2 linked regions of the Homo sapiens genome follow. Changing the gene in region 1 together with any one later gene gives a genetic interaction. Each region holds a gene or a part of one and is shown on either strand. Other genes may lie near its edges.

Region 1 (8,085 bases):
TATACTTGTTCTGACTACTTCATCTGTGCTTCTCCACCTCTCCCTGAAGTTCTGTAAGGCTAGAATATTTTTATGAGGTTGCCTTTCTTCTCATCCTAGGGAGAACTCCCAGGCCTTAGCTTACAGTGCATGTTAGAAGTCTGAAGATGGTATGCCCTAAGATGGAATAAAAATAGACATCACCATAGTGGTGATAATGCTAATAACAGTGGTAGCAAACACATGAGGTTTGGGATGGACTACATACTGTTCTCAGCGCTTATATTAATACGACCCTCACAGCAACTTTATGAGGCATTGTTTCATCATTCCCATCTTACAGATTGGGAAACCAAGGCATAGAGAGGTTTAGCAACTTCCTGAAGGTCACCCAGCACCAGGGCTGGGATTTGAACCCTGGCTCTCAGGCTCCAGAGACCAGGCTCTTTAATGCAATGCTATGTTGCTGCTCCAATAGTAATAAGCAAATCACTTGTTAGCCACATGAGAGGCACTGGGCTAAGAAAGCCAGAGAGATTCAGGAGGAAAGAGCCCCAGAGAGATCATACAGTAATGGTGGAACCCAAACTTCAATGCAGCTTCCTGACTACAAAAACGTATTCTTTTCACTGAACTATCCTCAGATGAAAAGGTTCCAAGCTCAGGCTATTTGGGGTAAGGAAGGAGTTGGCTGGTTGTATGTGCAGAAGCTTCCAGCAGTACTCAGCTTTATGGGGCAGGTCTGCTTGTGACATCTTCTGTCTAAATCAAGTCAAGCCATTTTTGAACCAGGATGTTGCTATTTAAAGGAATCCCTTTTGCCTTGCCCCTCCCACACCCCCCGGCCAAGACTCGCTCCCTTGTTTACCTTCTGTGTTAATGAGGCAGAGAAGATGGGTCCAAATCATTTCAGGAAGAATCAGTGGTAAAGGCTGGCAGACATGCCTCTGCACGGAGGTGAAGCTGTTATAACCTGCCTGTGAGAGTTAATATGGAGGAAACAGTCCCCGGGGCCTCCGGGAGGCTGGCTTGTCGCCGAGAATACTACCGCAATGTTAGAAACAGAGGTGGATGCAGGATCTTGACAGACATTGGCCTGGGATCTTGCCAACCTCTCGTTTTTACAGCAGACTTGGAAACAACCACTCGCCTCCTCCTAATTTGAGCTGCCTCCGCTAAATTGCTCACTTTGCCAATGACTGTGTGTTTTGCCATCGCCGGCAGGGAAGGTCTGAAGGGGCCATTGATTCATCTGAACCCTGACTTCATGTCTGACTGCAAGGGTAGGATCCAAGCTCATTTGGAAAGAAACAAGACAGAATCCAGTATGGATGAGGAATCAGTTCTTAGTAAAGATTTTTTAAAAACAGAGATTAGAGTCAAATAACTGGGATACATAGTGGAGCATCCACAATGAGGAAGGATAATGGAGCTACCAAAATGTGTGTGTGTGTGTTTGTGTTTGTGTGTGTGAAGGGTATTTTACTTAACAAGCATTTATTGAGTATCTACTCCTTTTTGGGCTAAGTGCAACTTGAGATAAGAAAGATTGATAGGATCTCAGGGCTGAAGGAGTTCAATTTGTAATTCAAAGTATGACTGCATAAGCAAGCCCCATTCCAATTCCTGTTGAGGTCTTAGCATGGAAGTATCCAGCACCCTCATCACACCCCCTGATAGAGGCACTCTCTGCCCTAATGGCAGCCCCCCTGCCTTTTGTTGCTGGTTCTTATTATTAGACGATTTTTTTCTTTGGTTGAGCCAATGAATGTTACTCTCTGCAATTTCCAGTTTTGGTATTCAAGACCTGTCCATTTGCTCCTCCATGTGCCAATTTTACAAATACCTGAAGACAGCTCTTGGGTGCTTCTTTTTCACACAACGTAGAAAGAGAAGCACAACCTTGTAGAATCTAAAAGTCAAGTCCTCTCCTCTTTCTGTTCCCAGTGCATGTGGTAAATGCCTCTCTTTCAGCCCTCAACCCACTGGGTGTAATTACTTTTGTATTCATAGTTAACTAGTATCTACTGGGTAAATCCTTTCTGCCAGACATTGTAGTGGGAAATTTCATAAGATCTTTCGTTCAATCCTGATTCCAATTCCCTGATGTAAAGAGAGTTATACCCTCTTTATAGATGAGAAAATTGAGGCTCAGAAAGAGGAAGTGGTTTCACTTCTTGGTCTGTTACCTTATCTAGATCATGTGGATGCTAATACTGCCCTTGTAAGACAGTTAAGAGCAGTAAATAAGTGAAATGTACATGGCACATAGTAGGTGTGCAATAAATGGGAGCTGTTTTCATTGGAACAGCCCTTCCATGGTTAGCCCATTTCATTTTTGGTGATGATAATGATGATGATATTAATAATATTTGTCTAGTGCAAACTATGTCCAAGACAGTATCAAGAGTTTCACATTTGTCATCTTGACTAATCCCTTCAGTTCAAGAGATTAGTATCATTATGATTCCTGTTTTATAGAAGAGGAGGCCAGAAACAAAGTTACTTACTTGCATACAGTCGCAATAGCCATAAACAGCAGAGCTGAGATTGGAACAGTTCTGTCTGGCTCCTGAGCCCCGACTCCCAATTGCTCCTTCTTCTAACCACATCCCCATAGAGCTCAGACTCTATTGCATCCCTTGCTATCTAAGCACTGGATACCAAGGGCTCAATCAGAATGCTAACTGGGGGCACTGTGGGAAGCTAGGGTGCACCACAACCCTGTAGACATGTCAAGATGTGGTGAATTAATGCATGCAAAGGAAGAGCCCCAAATGAGGTGGTTAGAAAGGGGTCCTAGTGGAAAGAGAACAGATCTGGGAGACCATGGCATTGTCAGATGGACAAGGGAGGGGGGACAATGGCTCTAACAGGAGAAGTAGGTTTTGGATTATGGTAAAGTCACAAAGTCAAGAAAATCCTCAGGGTCGGCGGGGGTTGACTATAGCCTTGGAAGTTCTGGAGCTGGCAATTGTGAATATTTGGGGTAATTAACTTGAATGGTGGCTGTTTCTTTTTCCTCCAACCTCCCTCTCACCCCAGGGAATTCCCACTCTTGTAAACACAATCATCTATTCCAGTTGGCTCCAAGGTAAGAGTGCAATTCCAGGCTCCACAGAGGCTAGCGTGCCCGCCCTGAGATGCTGTTCCTGATGTGGTTCAGGCCTTCCTAACCTCTTATTGTCTCCTTCTGTCTCTGCAGTGATCCGGGCCAAGGTGGTGGGGAAGAAGCTGGTAAAGGAGGGGCCCTTCGGCACGCTGGTCTACACCATCAAGCAGATGAAGGTAGGTAATGTCATCACCCTGGCTCCGGGAAGGTTTTTGGGTTTTTGCCAGAAGAGTCCTGGCTAAGGGAGGCAAAGTGGGTTGGAACTGGGGTGTGTGTCTAAGCACCAGCCAGACCCAGCCCTTCTGCCTGCTGGAGAGGGAGCTGCTAAGGCTGCATAAAGGGATGGGTAGGGAGGGGGCATGGGGCTGCCTTGTCCAAGAGCCCATGCAGGTGGAGTCACTCCAAGGCACTTGTTAGGAAGCTGAGCTCTGGAGCCAGATGGCAGATAGCCTTGTTAGCTCGTAACCATGAGACCTTGGTCAAGTCACTGCCCCTCTCTGGGCTTTAATCTTCCCAATTGTGAAATGAGGGGGTTGGACTAGATCATCTCTATGAACTCTTCTGAGCTCTGACTATCTGGGACTCAACAGTGCTTACAGGTTTCATGCAGCCACTGAGGTTACAGCTTAGGTTTACAGCCCTCAAATCTTTACATGGAAACTGTGCTGATCACAGGAACCTCATCCCAAGGCAGGAACTTCACCTTCTTTCCCTATTTTCCCAGCTGATTGTCTTCTTGCATCCTAGATAGTTAGCAATGTTTGCTAAGCATATTCTTATCATTAAACATATTACTGAGGATATGAACATCATGAAGTACAGGAAGGAGGTATGCCCTTAAGAAAAAGAACACCAGATTTGAAATCTAGAGAACCTGCCTCCTAGTCTCACCTCTACTCCTAAATAGCCTGCTTACCTTGGGCTTGTCCCTTTTCCTGGGCCGCAGTTTTGCCACCTGTTAACAGTGTGGGGTTGGGCTTGGTGCTCCTAACATCCTCTCTAGCTCAGGCATTCTAAGCACCCTGGGATGCGGGCCATGTTACTTGTAAGGAGGAGCGGGTGGTATACAATGGAAGGGTGTACTGGTGATTGCCTTAGCACAGAAGACTGGGGCTTCACCTTGAATAACTCAGCAACTGGTTCATCACCCCATCTTTGTAAGCACCTCTCTACATGCAGAGCTCCCAGCTAGGAGCCAGGGAGGCCGTGAGGGAGATACAGTTTCCATCTTTAGGAACTAGAGTCAGGTTGGGAGAGAAGAGGCAGGTATGTGTGTGACTCATCAGAAGTTCAATGTGGGGTGTGCTGAGGTCCACAGGAACTGTCCAGCCCTTTAACTTATTGCTCATATTTGCATCCCTAGCAATTAGGGTAGGACCTGGCATGCAAAAGTGACTTGGTGAATGCTTATCTGTCTAATACGGGCATGAGGGTGAGACCCCACAGGCCTGGAAACTCCCCAGAGGAGACAAGCCGCAATGTCCAGGTAGAAGGGAGTGGAGGAGTGACGCAGCCCACGGTGGTACCCAACCATCCCCAAGGCCAACCTCCAGGCTTTCTTATTCCTGTGTCCTGAGGCTGGATGTACTAATTTTGTGGAACCTGTTGCTTTGGATTCAATTTTGCAAACATCCACAGCCTTCTGGTTATGTAATGTCCAGAGTCAGCCCTGGCCAGTTGCCCTTGGCTGCCTAAGCTTGGTCATGAGACCAGCTTATGTCTTCAGACAGCCCTGGGGAGAGAAAAATGGGCAGGGGTGGGGAACCAGCAAGAGCAACAACAACGCAAAAAGCCCACTTTGCAACCTCTGGCAGACAGCGCGGGAATGCCAAAGCATATTAGACCAAAGCAGAGGTTCAGAAAACACACGAACCTGCCTGGTCTGGAACAATCCTCATTACGAGACACTCGGTGGTCAGCAGAGAGCTGAGAGGGAAATAGCTGGGAGGCAGCAGTTCCTAAGCCTGCCTGGTTTCCTTCCTACCATCAGGGCCTGGAGACCAGGGTGACCAGAGGCCCTTCCTGTGGACATAATGTCCCATTCCCCCTTGCTGGTGTCAGACCAGCCACGGGTGGTTGTTTAGAGACCAAACAACACTTGCTAGCCTATCAGCATCAGACACTCCCACTCCCAGGCTGGTGGGCTTAGAAGACACACTCCCACTCCCAGACTGGTGGGCTTAGGCTTTCGGTTCACCATCCTTCGCCTGAGCTCATGAATCATGGTGCTGGGAATTAGATGTAGGATCCCTCGTCTTACTTCTGACAGAGGCGCAAAGGGGAAATGACTTACTCAGAGTCAAGCATTTAACTAAGGGCAGATCTGATCCCCAAGCTGAGGCATCGGAATTTCTTCCCAATCCTGTGTTCTTTATATGACTCCCAAATCTCCCTGCCATCTTAATCATCAGTCACCATCTCATGCCTTTCATTCACTCTGACCCTCCATAGAGGGTATCATGATCCATAGAACTGGTCAGTGCCCTTCTATCCAGAGACACCACTGGAATCTGCTTGTCTCTAGGTACCAGCCTGCAAGTCAGACAAGATACAGGCTAGAAGTAATAGTCCGTCCATCCATCCTCTCGTGCTTCCTTCCCACCCTCTCTCTGTGCTTAGTACTGTACTATGAACTGGGGATACAAAGATAACACTGCTTATAATTATGATAAGACTTGGCATCAGTTAACATTTACTGAGCAATTGCTTAGTGCCAGGCATTCTGCTAGGTCTTTGCATAGATCAGTACTTATACTAACACTGTAAAATAGATAACACCTTGTCCTCTGTTTGACAGGTGAGGCAACTGAGACCTGGGAGGTCATATAACTGTTAAGATTATATGGCCACAAAGTGGCAAACCTGAGCAAAACTACAGGGTCTTTGCCTATAAGGAGATAATACAGTATGGAGCAGCAGGCTGATTCATCATTCCTACCCACTTTGGGGTATATAAATGCCCACTCCATATGTTTTTAGTTCCCAGGGAACAAAAAGAGGTCAGTTTGGGTTTGTTGGTTTATCATCCAGCAGTGTAGGGCTGGACTTGTAATATCCTGCAAAGGGTGTATCAGAAAAATCTTTGTAGGAGGGAAGAGAGAGAGGCCAGAGAGGCAAGCCTGCATGAGTTTTGGCACTGGTCCCTGGGAGACTTTGTTCTAGCAGATTAGACAGTCTACCCTAGAGAGTCAGAAGGGGTGAGCAAGGGCTTCCTTAGAGCAGGACTAAAGGAACTTGGAGAACCTGAGACTCCGAGCCGCCCTGTCTGACCTCTCTCTTCTCTCACTGATGGAAGGCAGGCAGACCTTCTCCCGTCTGCTAACTCTGGAGCCTCTGACCCATCTCTCAGGAACACTTCAGTACACAGAGACCTGCGATATGTGTGTGTGTGTGAGGGAGCAGGGTGTTAGAATGTTGAGAGAGCTTATTGCAATCCCAAACTTGGAAATTAGCTGGGCTGTGGGGTGAAGGTGAAAGTTTCCAGAACTGGCTGCTCTAAGCTGTGGGGACCTTATCTCCCATCAGGACCATGAGAAACCGATCCACTGTGCCAGGAGTTATTGTTTATGTAGCGGAGACATGCTCTCCAGCTGGCTGCAGGGGACAGAACGTGGGGGACATTATGTCCCAGCTGGTCCTGGGAGGGTCCCATGGGGAGACCCGCTGGTCATGTGCTTTGCATGTCCTGACTGTAGGCAGAGCAGACCTCCAGGGACTTCCTTCCTTTAGTGGTTTGTCTAACCAAATGAGCAATAGCAGGGTCTCGCCTTTGAAGCTCTAGCTGGAAGCATCTTTGACCCCCAGCCCACAGGGAACCATTCTTCTTGCAATGCCCGTGGTTCTTCCTGCCTTAGGACTCTCATCCAGCCCTCTGCAGAGACTGGCTCCATTTCTACATTCTCTGCCTGTCCTGCTAGACAAATTGCTGTATAGAGAAAGATCATGGCCGTGATAGCTCGGTCGGTCTGTAAATAAGAATTTGTGGGTTTAAATGAGTCCGTGATGTACACCAGCATCCAGAACAGTGTTGATCTTTGGTAGGCATGCAAGACATAGTTGGAATCATTGAGGCAACTCATGCTGTCAATGTAGAGTGAAGGCCAGACATTTCATAAGAAATATGCAAATGTCCCCAGACTCAGAAACTTCTTTTTTACTTTATTTGTCCCTTCACTCCAAGGGAAGCTAACATCTTGGAACTTTGTGTAGATGCTACCAAGAAGAAGAAGAGGGGCCCAGAGGCATGCAGAACCCAGCTGAAAAAGAACAACCCACTTATGTCTGAAGTTCTAAACCAGCTTTAACTACTCTTGTTAAGAGCTGAGGAAGGGACTTAGGAGAAAGGGGACCAAACTCATTCCTCCTCTCCTTACGAATTTCAGTATAACTTGTTCTAAGCTAACTTTTATTGAATGTTGTGGGCTGACTGCTATTCTAAGTCATTTGCTTCTCTCAAACACCCTAAGAAGTGCTTTGACCCATTTTACAGATGAAGAAACTGAGACCCAAAGAGGTTAAGTAACTTTCCAAGTGGCGAACACAGGTGGCAGAGAAGATTGAAGATTCAAACTCTGGCTGTCAGCCTCCAAAACCTGAATTTACCACTGATCTCCATGGCATTGGTTTGGATTAGATTACCTTTAACATCTTTTCCAACTCTGAGATTCTAGGATTCTCTGATGTCAGGACATTATAAACCTATTATAACTCTCCTAAATTTGTCAAACCAATTCTAGATCTCTATGATTACAGACATGATACTTTTAGAATCAATATTTAAATCAAGGTAGGATTATTACACAGAAAACACAACTGAGTAGAATCTACCTTTGCCATGTTGTTCTTTTCAGAATTGACCCTAAAACACAGCGCTATGTTTGTCAGAGCCAGTCATTTGTAATGTGTCAGAATTTCGACTCTAGGCAAGTGCTAGGAGCTAAAATGCAGGTTCCTTCAAACTTCCAAGTAGCTGCGGTGCCAAGCTGATTTCGATG
Region 2 (9,069 bases), on another chromosome or scaffold:
CAATCATTAAAATGAGTAGAAAGTTTTTTAAAAAGTGCTTATTCAGAGTTTAGTGAACACACAAATATTATAGATTGCAATTCTATGTTATAGTACATCTTGCTTTCTATAACTGTAAAAATAAGCTAAAGCATAGGAGTATGATTTAATCTATATTCCTAGCCCTATTCAATATGTAGTTATAGATTAACTATAAACCTCCACTCAAGTGAAATGCAAGAGGAATATAATTTATAGCTTTTTTAAAGAAGCATATGCCTAAAGCCTGAATAATCCAGTACTAATCTATTATAATATACTCAACTTAGAAGTGCTCATCTCTCTTACAATGTTGTCTTGTAAATGATGCAATGAGTTGAAAGACTGGTTCTGGTTCAAGAGGAAATCCTGATAAAAATGGATATAAAACCCCACTAAGAAACACAAGCATGTTTCAAAGAGAAATCTGAATCCCCAAATCATTATTCACAATCTATTATTAATTACAATTTGAGATATATCACCAGTTACTTCTAGGTTGTAAATATGTCTCACTAATGACAATCTTGTACAAACATATCAGAAAAACAATGGGCAATTCCTGAAAGTCACTGGACGATAAAACATAGTTACATTTGGTTTCAGAAGATTCAGAAAAGATTAGGGGAAATTTTATTATTTTATTAAAACCACTTAAAAATAATTCTGGTGAGCCTCAAAGCAAGTAGCCATGTTGATTACATGCATTTTGCTCTCACGTTTAAGACACAAAGGTCTCCATTTCTCTAAGAGAACTGCTTTTCCGGCAAGACATACTCTCTCTTTTCCCTTGGAGCCAAGTAATTGGAACCCTAAACACACTGCGGAGCTTCTGTTGGAACCGGTTTCCAACAAAACAATACAGAAACGGATTAACGCAGCTGTTGGTGAATCCCAAGAGGATGGCAAAAGGAAGTGCCAGGTCAATGACTGCTATAACTTCGCAGCTATTAATGACACCCATCCAGGCCAGAGCATCCAGGAAGGTCAGAACATGGAAGGGAAGCCAGCAAATGATGAAGGCCAGAACAACAGCAGCTGCCATCTTCAGGACTTGGTCACGGGTTATCCTGTTCTTCCCATAGCTATTCGTCTTCAGTAAGTGTTTTCTAATTCCAAAATAGCATGTTGCTATGAATATTAAAGGGATAATAAAACCAAGGATATTTTTCATTAAGGCAATCCCAGCTGACCATTGGGCATATTTCTCAGGTGGGAAAGCCATAATGCAAGCATTCACTCCTAAGTATTCAATGGTTCTGACGTCTCGAAAATAAAATGTTGGCAATGAGGACAAACAGGCCATACACCAAACAAGGGGAACTATATAAGATGCTTGCCAGGGATTTCTTCTTTGAGACAGAAAGGGGTAGATGACAGATTGGTACCTATCAACACTCATGCAGGTGATAAAAAAAATGCTTGCAAACATGTTCAGGGTAAGAAAAGAACCAAAAACTTTGCACATCACAGGTCCAAAGAGCCAGTCATATCTATAAGAATAATAGGTTGCCCATAGAGGAAGAGTAGCCAAAAGGAGTAAATCAGCCACAGCGAGGTTGAAGATGTATATGCTAGAAACCTTTTTAGGACCCTTTTGACAACAAAACAGTGTAACCACGACAATATTGACCAGAAATCCAATTACAAATATAATGTAGTAAAGAATAGGAATTGCATCTAAATGCTTATCTGATGGTTTCTGTGAACAGTTCAAGGTAGACTCATTGTTGCCAGAGATGTTCACAAGCCCGAAGTGAAGACCGCTGGTAATGTTTTTGCTAGTAGTGGCAAGGGTGGAGTTGCCCTTCATATTGAAATGTCAGCAGCTCCTAGTTCTTATGCCTTCTGTGGAGAAAAAACATAGAACTCTTAGAACACATACAGAGCTGAGGACATCCTTGAATCATTAGCATTTTGAATGTTTGTCAAAAGCAAAAAAAAAGTGAGTGATTATAGAAAACATTAAGAAACAGAGCCATGGCTTGTAAAACAAGAATTCATTTTACCTCTTGAAAAAGGAGAAATAATTTTCCTGATAGTAGAAAAAAGACATTTCAGAGATTCAAAGTTCTGAATAAAACTACCTTTTGCCCATCTTTTCTATGATGTTTTTGAAAGATTTAAAGAAAATTAATATTTCAAAAGATTAGTCAGGGCAGGAAATGTGTGAAACAAATAAGAAACCCAGAGGTAAGAAAAGTTAATCTTTCAAAAAACACTTGAGCATATATCTCTGTTTGTATACTTTCTAGAAACCACACTGCTGCTTGCTATTGCATAGAGAAATGCTCTATTTAAGTAACTAATTACATACAAATCACTACAGCTGTGGAAAATATAAGTAACATAAGCAATGGAAAAAATAAGTATATAAAAAACTAAAAGAGAATATGCCAAAGGAACATATTGTGATGGGGAATCATGGTTTGTCTTTAATAATTAAAAATAATTCCTTTAGTTTTACTTTTCTATTGTTTTCACAATAATAATATAGTTAAGAAGAAGTTATGAAATATATTTATATTTCTAAGTCTTCTCCTTTTAATAGAGAATATTAGTTTTAGATATAGATATCTAATTTTGGTCTATTTAATATCTAAACAATCCATTTTCAATTAAATCAGATAAAGAAAAAAACAGCCAAACCTATGTTAGGTTCAAGTAGAAGTAGTTTAGATTGCTCAGTGAAATGAGAAATGAACATCAATGATTAATCATGATATAGTCTTATCATTTTTCTTTTTCTCTCTTTTCGGTTTAACCGAACTGAATAGCCGTTGCTCTCAAACGTTACAGTGTTGAGGTTTTTGTGATTTTTTTCACTAGAAGCATTATTTTAAAACCAAAAAAAAAAACACATTAGCTAAAGATAAGCATACAAAGGAAACACTATTTACTTTAGATAGTTTCAAAATACATGCAAATAAGCTACCCAATTAAAAGTGTAATATCTAAAGAACCTCCTAATAAAGAGCAAAACTTTTATTTTGCTCTAAAGATTTTTCTTTTGACCTAACAAATTAACATAAAAGAATCAATAATAAATTCCACTTGAAGACTTACTGGTTGTTGAAGTTTAAAGCAGTTATCATAAATCAGCTTGCTTAGTGCCTAAACACACTCCTGTAAGAGAAACAGCAGCTAAATAATTCAGGAGTTTTGCAAAATACAGTGTTAAAACACAGGAAAAACAGAAGTTCATCCATAAAAAATATTTTCATTTAATGTATGTTCTACTTTCCAAGTAAATTATATATAAATTGTTCATACTTACCTTCAAAATTCAGGCTGCAGAATGCTTTGAATTCTGTGCTTACTCGTTCTCTCAGACGCTGGGACGTAATAGCACCAGATCTCTGGTTTCCTTCTTATATGTTTGGTCTGTCCACTGGGAGCCTTCAACCTACATAATTCTAGGGCTGACTTATGAACCCTTGCCAGCTTTCCAGAGAGGTTTTTTTTTGTCTGCAAAACATTAATCTGAAATTCTCACTGTCTCCAATCATAACAGCTCATTCAAATAAATCTCAAACAAAAAAAATGAAGTTTCCACAAATGTGCTAGAGAATTTTGAAGTCAGTGGCTTACTTGGTAGGAGAAAAATATAGTAATTATTTACAGAATTTTCTCTTCCTTTTTTCCTGATATTGGCATTCTAATAGAAATTAGTGAGTAGAGACTAGGAAATTTATTATAGTAGCAAAGTCTTTGTTCATCAGCTTTCACAACCTTCATTACTTTCTGAAATTTTTACCCCTGTTTATTAAAGAATGGTAGGAATTTTACTTGAAGTCTACCACTTCTAAAATTTCTCCCTTGCTTTGCGCAGTTTTTGTTGGCTTGTTGCTGGAGGGTTGGAGATTGCAGGAATATAATTTTTACACGACCAAAAAGAGGTTTAGTCTCCTTTCATAGGTCTCTGTCATATTTGTGGTTTAAATACAAAGCACATAAAGTGAAGAGGGATTCGCTAGCTATTTCAACCTAGATCACTGTTGCTGCTGTCTCTTGTGGCAGTGGGGGCAATAAACTACACAACCAATCCAGCAGAAGCAAGAGTGACAAAATGAAGAAAGATAAGAACAGGTGATGGTAGTGATAATACTAGCTGACAATAAATGTTATGTGCCGAACACTGTGATGAGTTATTTATCATCAATAATTTAATAGAGAGGCAATATAGCACACTGGTTAGTAAATAGCCTCTGGGATCCAACTACCTGGCTTTACAAACCCAGCTCTACCACTTACTAATTCTGACCTTGGCCAAGTTACTTTACTTCTTCATGTCTCAGTTTCTCATCTGAGAAAGGAGAATGATATAAATTACCTACATCGTAGAGTAGGAATTTTAAATAAGCTAATGGAAAATTAAATGAGCTAATATGTTTAAAGTGCCTAAAATCATGCCTAGCATATGGTAGGTGCTATTACAAGCTATTCATATTAGCCCCCACTTTACAAATCAGGAAACTAGGACTCATAGAGTTTAATAACTTTTCTGAGATCATACAGCTATTAAATGAAGACACTTGCATTTAAATCAAAGGAAACTAATATCAGAACTCACGCTGTTTAGCCTCTATACCACAAGAGGAAGCACTAGATGGTCCCTTAGTCTCACTCTTTGTCTTGGCAAAAAGGAAACGTGGCATTTACAGAAAATCACTGATGACCATTCATAATCTATCATAAAAGCATCAAAGAAGGGGAAAAGAATTGGAAGAATTGTTATGTGGGGAAACGTATTTTTCTTAATTGTATTGCCCAAATGGAGACCACAGGAAGGAGAAACTTGTGACTAGATGGCTTTCTATAGTTAGTACAGAGAACCAGAGAACCTAGAGCACATTTTAAATGGGCAAAAAGATTCAAGTTATTTCTGTGGATCATATTTTTCAGATAAGCAGCAAGAATGCACCTGTCCATGCTGCAGGCCACAGGTAAAGAATGAGGGCAGGCTCTGAGGAAGTAGCTGGGCACCTAAGTATGGAGTTCAGCAGAACAAGGAAGGAGAAGTCAGTGTTGATGACAGAAGACAAAATTGCAAATGGCATGAGACAAATCACATGGCTTTTGATATCTGTCTGTTTCTCCATTAATATTAAAGTCAATACTGTAGCACACAGGCAGATGAGATCAGTGAGAAGTCATCGTTATGTGAAAAATACAGTAGGATTCAAAGGTTTGCATAGGCCATCATAAAGTTTGTTTGGTAAACAGTTTGAACATTGTCAAAATGCCCCTAATATATGTATGCACCATTTTACTAAATCTCAAAATATTTGTTTCCTATGCTCTGGACAGATTCAGTTGAGGCTGAGGCTCTGTTAAAATGATGGAAAACTTATGTTTCAGAAACAAATGAGGGGGCACATATGTTTATCAGCAGGAAAGCTGAGATGGAAACTGTTTTCACTCATTGTTTAAACCTGGTTTCTCCCTCCATTTCAAATGTTTGTTTTTGCCACATAAAGGGGAAGTTTCCAGGCCAGGGCCTCCCGAGTGGTCACAATGGGTCAGATTCTCACCCTGCTCTTTTTCTTGTACCCTCTTAGGCCCCTTGCAAAGAAACAGCCAGGAGGTGAGCTATAAAATTATGAGAACAAACTACAGGCTTGTCTCCGGAAGACCTAGCCTTGAACACCCACAAGGAACAGGGGACCTTGTCTAGAGCTTTTGTCCTTCATTACAGTAAGTTCTGACATAAATAAAGTTTAAAGAGGTACATATTTCCCAGAAGATTAAAGGGCCATTTACTCTGCGTCTTCATAATCTTAGGAGTAATTTTTTTCACAAGTCAAAGAAAAATTTTGTAACTGCAGAGAATTAACAAAAAGTTTATAAAAAGAATAGCAATAATATTGACACCACTTGAAGAAATACTGTATATTATTGATTCAGCAAAGAACTCCCAGTTAAGCCAACAATGTAAATACACTTGAGAGTCAAATAAGTGTCAGTCCTGGGAAGCAGTACAACACAAAAAGTTCATTCTCCTGGGAGTAGGGAATAATTTTTCTGCTGGTAGACTTACTTAAAAAGTTTCAGGCCATTTGAATAAATTATGCAGCTCTGCAGGACAAGTGTAGCTGAGCTAGCAGAATTAAATAGTAAATCACATTAAATTAATTTTTTTCTAATGAATACCTGTTGTTTATTGTGAGATTACTTAACAGTAAATTTTAAAGGACTAAGCTAAAAAAGTAAATGTTCTTGAGAGAAATTCTTCCTCTGCTAGAAGGTTACAGAGTTCAGAACAAATTTTATTTGCCGCCTCACCTCCACCCACACACACAGATGAAACTTCAAAGGAGAAAAGAAATACATAAATGCAAAAATGCGTAAAAATTCTAGACATAGTGCCCTGGTTATAGAGGTAAAGATTAGAGGTACAGATTACGGAATGATTTTAATATATATGGGTCTTCCTTTTTAATCTAGGTCTCTCAGAGTCATTTTAACTTTCCCCAACCCCAGCCACCACACTGAGTGCCAATATCATTGCCACTTCTCTCAACTTCAACACACACACACACACACACACACACACCATTCATACCCATGTACCCACGTACATACTTTATACCAACTTTTCTTTAATTCACTTACCCATAGAGTAGCCTTGCTTTAATTGTCACTGGACTTTTCCTAACCTGGGGGTCTCTAAAAGGAGGGTAGTTAAGAAGATTGCCCATTATTGATGAATCTTTGCATATTATTTTTGTGCCTGTCTGTGAAATGTCACAATTAAAGCAAATGGAAAAAAAAATAAGGTCTTTTATTCAGAAATAACAATCAGATTGGCCATTTTGTAGAAACCAGCTTAAAATTCAGTGAAATGCCCAACATGAGTGATTATTTTCATCAAACTACCTCTTTGTCTACGCATCACATGAAAAGTGACACAGAGGACTATTAAGTAAGTTAAGGTGAAACTGATGTAGTGAGATGAATGGATGTCAGACTCAGTACATTCTTGAGACCAGCTGCTTCCAGCTGAATCTGGTCCCAAGAACATAAGGAGAAGGGAGAGTTCTAATTTCCCTTTGCCCCAAAGACAGCTTCAGGCCTGAGCACCATGTTCAGACTAGAATCTTGCAAAAGGCACCCTAGTTCTATCCTCAAATGCTATATAACCCAACTGGTGGAAAAAAATTTTAAATGAAAATTATCTATATTTTTGTTTACATTCCAAATATCAGCTAAATGATTTGACATTTCTCCCACTGATATGACTAAATTAAATAGCTTGACTAAATTATCCAAAATTGCCAATTGACTAAATTGGCCAAACCAACAAGCTGTCTTGGAAATATTTAAACACCACTCTTAGGCGATGGGGATGTTTTGGGGGGATGTTTTGGGGAGATGTTGTCAGGTTAGAACTCTCATAGGGCAGTGGATCAACAAATTGTTAAGCTAGAGTTTGGTCCTTGAGCTTTAGGTCTAGATATTGAACTTTCTCAGAATACCCAGGCTCTCAGTGATGGCTCATGTCAATCAAATTATCTCAAAACTGATATAGTACTTTGATTGTTAATTTATTACTTTGCAATAGAGATATACTACTTTCCAGTGACCACAAAGATTGCGTTCCTTATCTGAAGCACCCTCTTCATCTCCATCCCAATATTAGGAAACAAGGTAAATCTGGCTTGGTAACTTTGCAATCAGATCAGGAAAGCTGGTAACTGGGAACCTATTTTGCTTTAGTTTCGGGAAATTTCTGTCAGGGATTATCACTCGGGTTGCCAGATTGATGAGCCCTCCAAGTCATTCTCTCAACAGTTTTGCCTCTCTGAACCCTGTTTTTCTGGTAGTCACCCCATTCTGTTGATACATTATTTGAAATATTACTATTATTGATGAAGCTATAATTAAGTCCCTGTCCAGGTGGCCTAGAAGTAATTCAAGATCTGCTTTGATTGATTGGACAAATTCTCAAAGCTGGAGATTAGAGAGAACAATCCCTCACCAAAGAGACAGGGAAAGAGGCAAAATAATCATCTCTCCAAAACTGACCATCAATTCAGAGCAAATGGTTATTTAGCTTTGTTTAAGGGAGTCATTTACCCCAACCACTTTTCAAGCTCCTAAAAGGATACAAAAACAAAAAAGAGTTGTACAATTTTGGATATTTTTGCTTTTGAGCTGCAAAACAACGTTGTGCACATGTATCCTGAAACTTAAAGTATAATAATAATAAAATTTGAAAAAAAAAGAAGATAGAACAAGATGACAGGAAGTTTGGGGTGGTGTTCTGGGTGGATCTTGAGGTTTTTACTCCAAGGAAATGAAAACAGGAAGTTTATCACTAGGAATTATGAGAGTGCTTGAGCTTTTAGATATTTACCCTACAGATATTTGAATTCGTGGTTTTCAATAAGGATTTGTAAAATGTACAACGGGAAAGCAGAATTTTTACGGTAAATAATTTGCAATACACCCACAAAGAAACTAGCTCATACTTGGGTATCTAGAAGTTGACAGCTTTCTTTACAATTAATTTATTGCATGTTGTTTCAGCAGTAACACTCCTATTTTTTATTGGTTATATTTTATACTGATCACACAACTGAAATTATTCTTCTTTTAATTGTTTTTTTAAACTGAGATATAATTTACATATGAAATGCACCGTTTTAAAAATATATTTAGTATATTCATGAAGTTGTGCAGCTATCACCACTATATAATTCCAAAACATTTTTATCACTTCTTTTTATTATTATTATTATTATTATTATACTTTAAGTTTTAGGGTACATGTGCACAATGTGCAGGTTAGTTACATATGTATACATGTGCCATGCTGGTGTGCTGAACCCATTAACTCGTCATTTAGCATTAGGTATATCTCCTAATGCTATCCCTCCCCCATCCCCCCACCCCACAACAGTCCCCAGAGTGTGATGTTCCCCTTCCTGTGTCCATGTGTTCTCATTGTTCAATTCCCACCTATGAGTGAGAACGTGCAGTGTTTGGTTTTTTGTCCTTGCGATAGTTTACTGAGAATGATGATTTCCAATTACATCCATGTCCCTA

The links.
Region 2: of TIMP3 (region 1) and AGTR2, extra expression of one is lethal in a mutant of the other (dosage lethality), as found in Homo sapiens cells (one study listed by BioGRID).

The regions. Positions count from the first base shown.
Region 1 is NC_000022.11:32,846,268-32,854,352, forward strand, and holds part of TIMP3 (metalloproteinase inhibitor 3 precursor), read left to right. Parts: intron 1-3,184; coding exon 3,185-3,267; intron 3,268-8,085.
Region 2 is NC_000023.11:116,165,043-116,174,111, reverse strand, and holds the start of AGTR2 (type-2 angiotensin II receptor), read right to left. Parts: upstream 3,369-9,069; 5' UTR 3,296-3,368; intron 3,145-3,295; 5' UTR 3,085-3,144; intron 1,867-3,084; 5' UTR 1,832-1,866; coding exon 740-1,831; 3' UTR 1-739. UniProt on the Homo sapiens protein: Receptor for angiotensin II, a vasoconstricting peptide. Signals primarily via a non-canonical G-protein- and beta-arrestin independent pathways. Cooperates with MTUS1 to inhibit ERK2 activation and cell proliferation.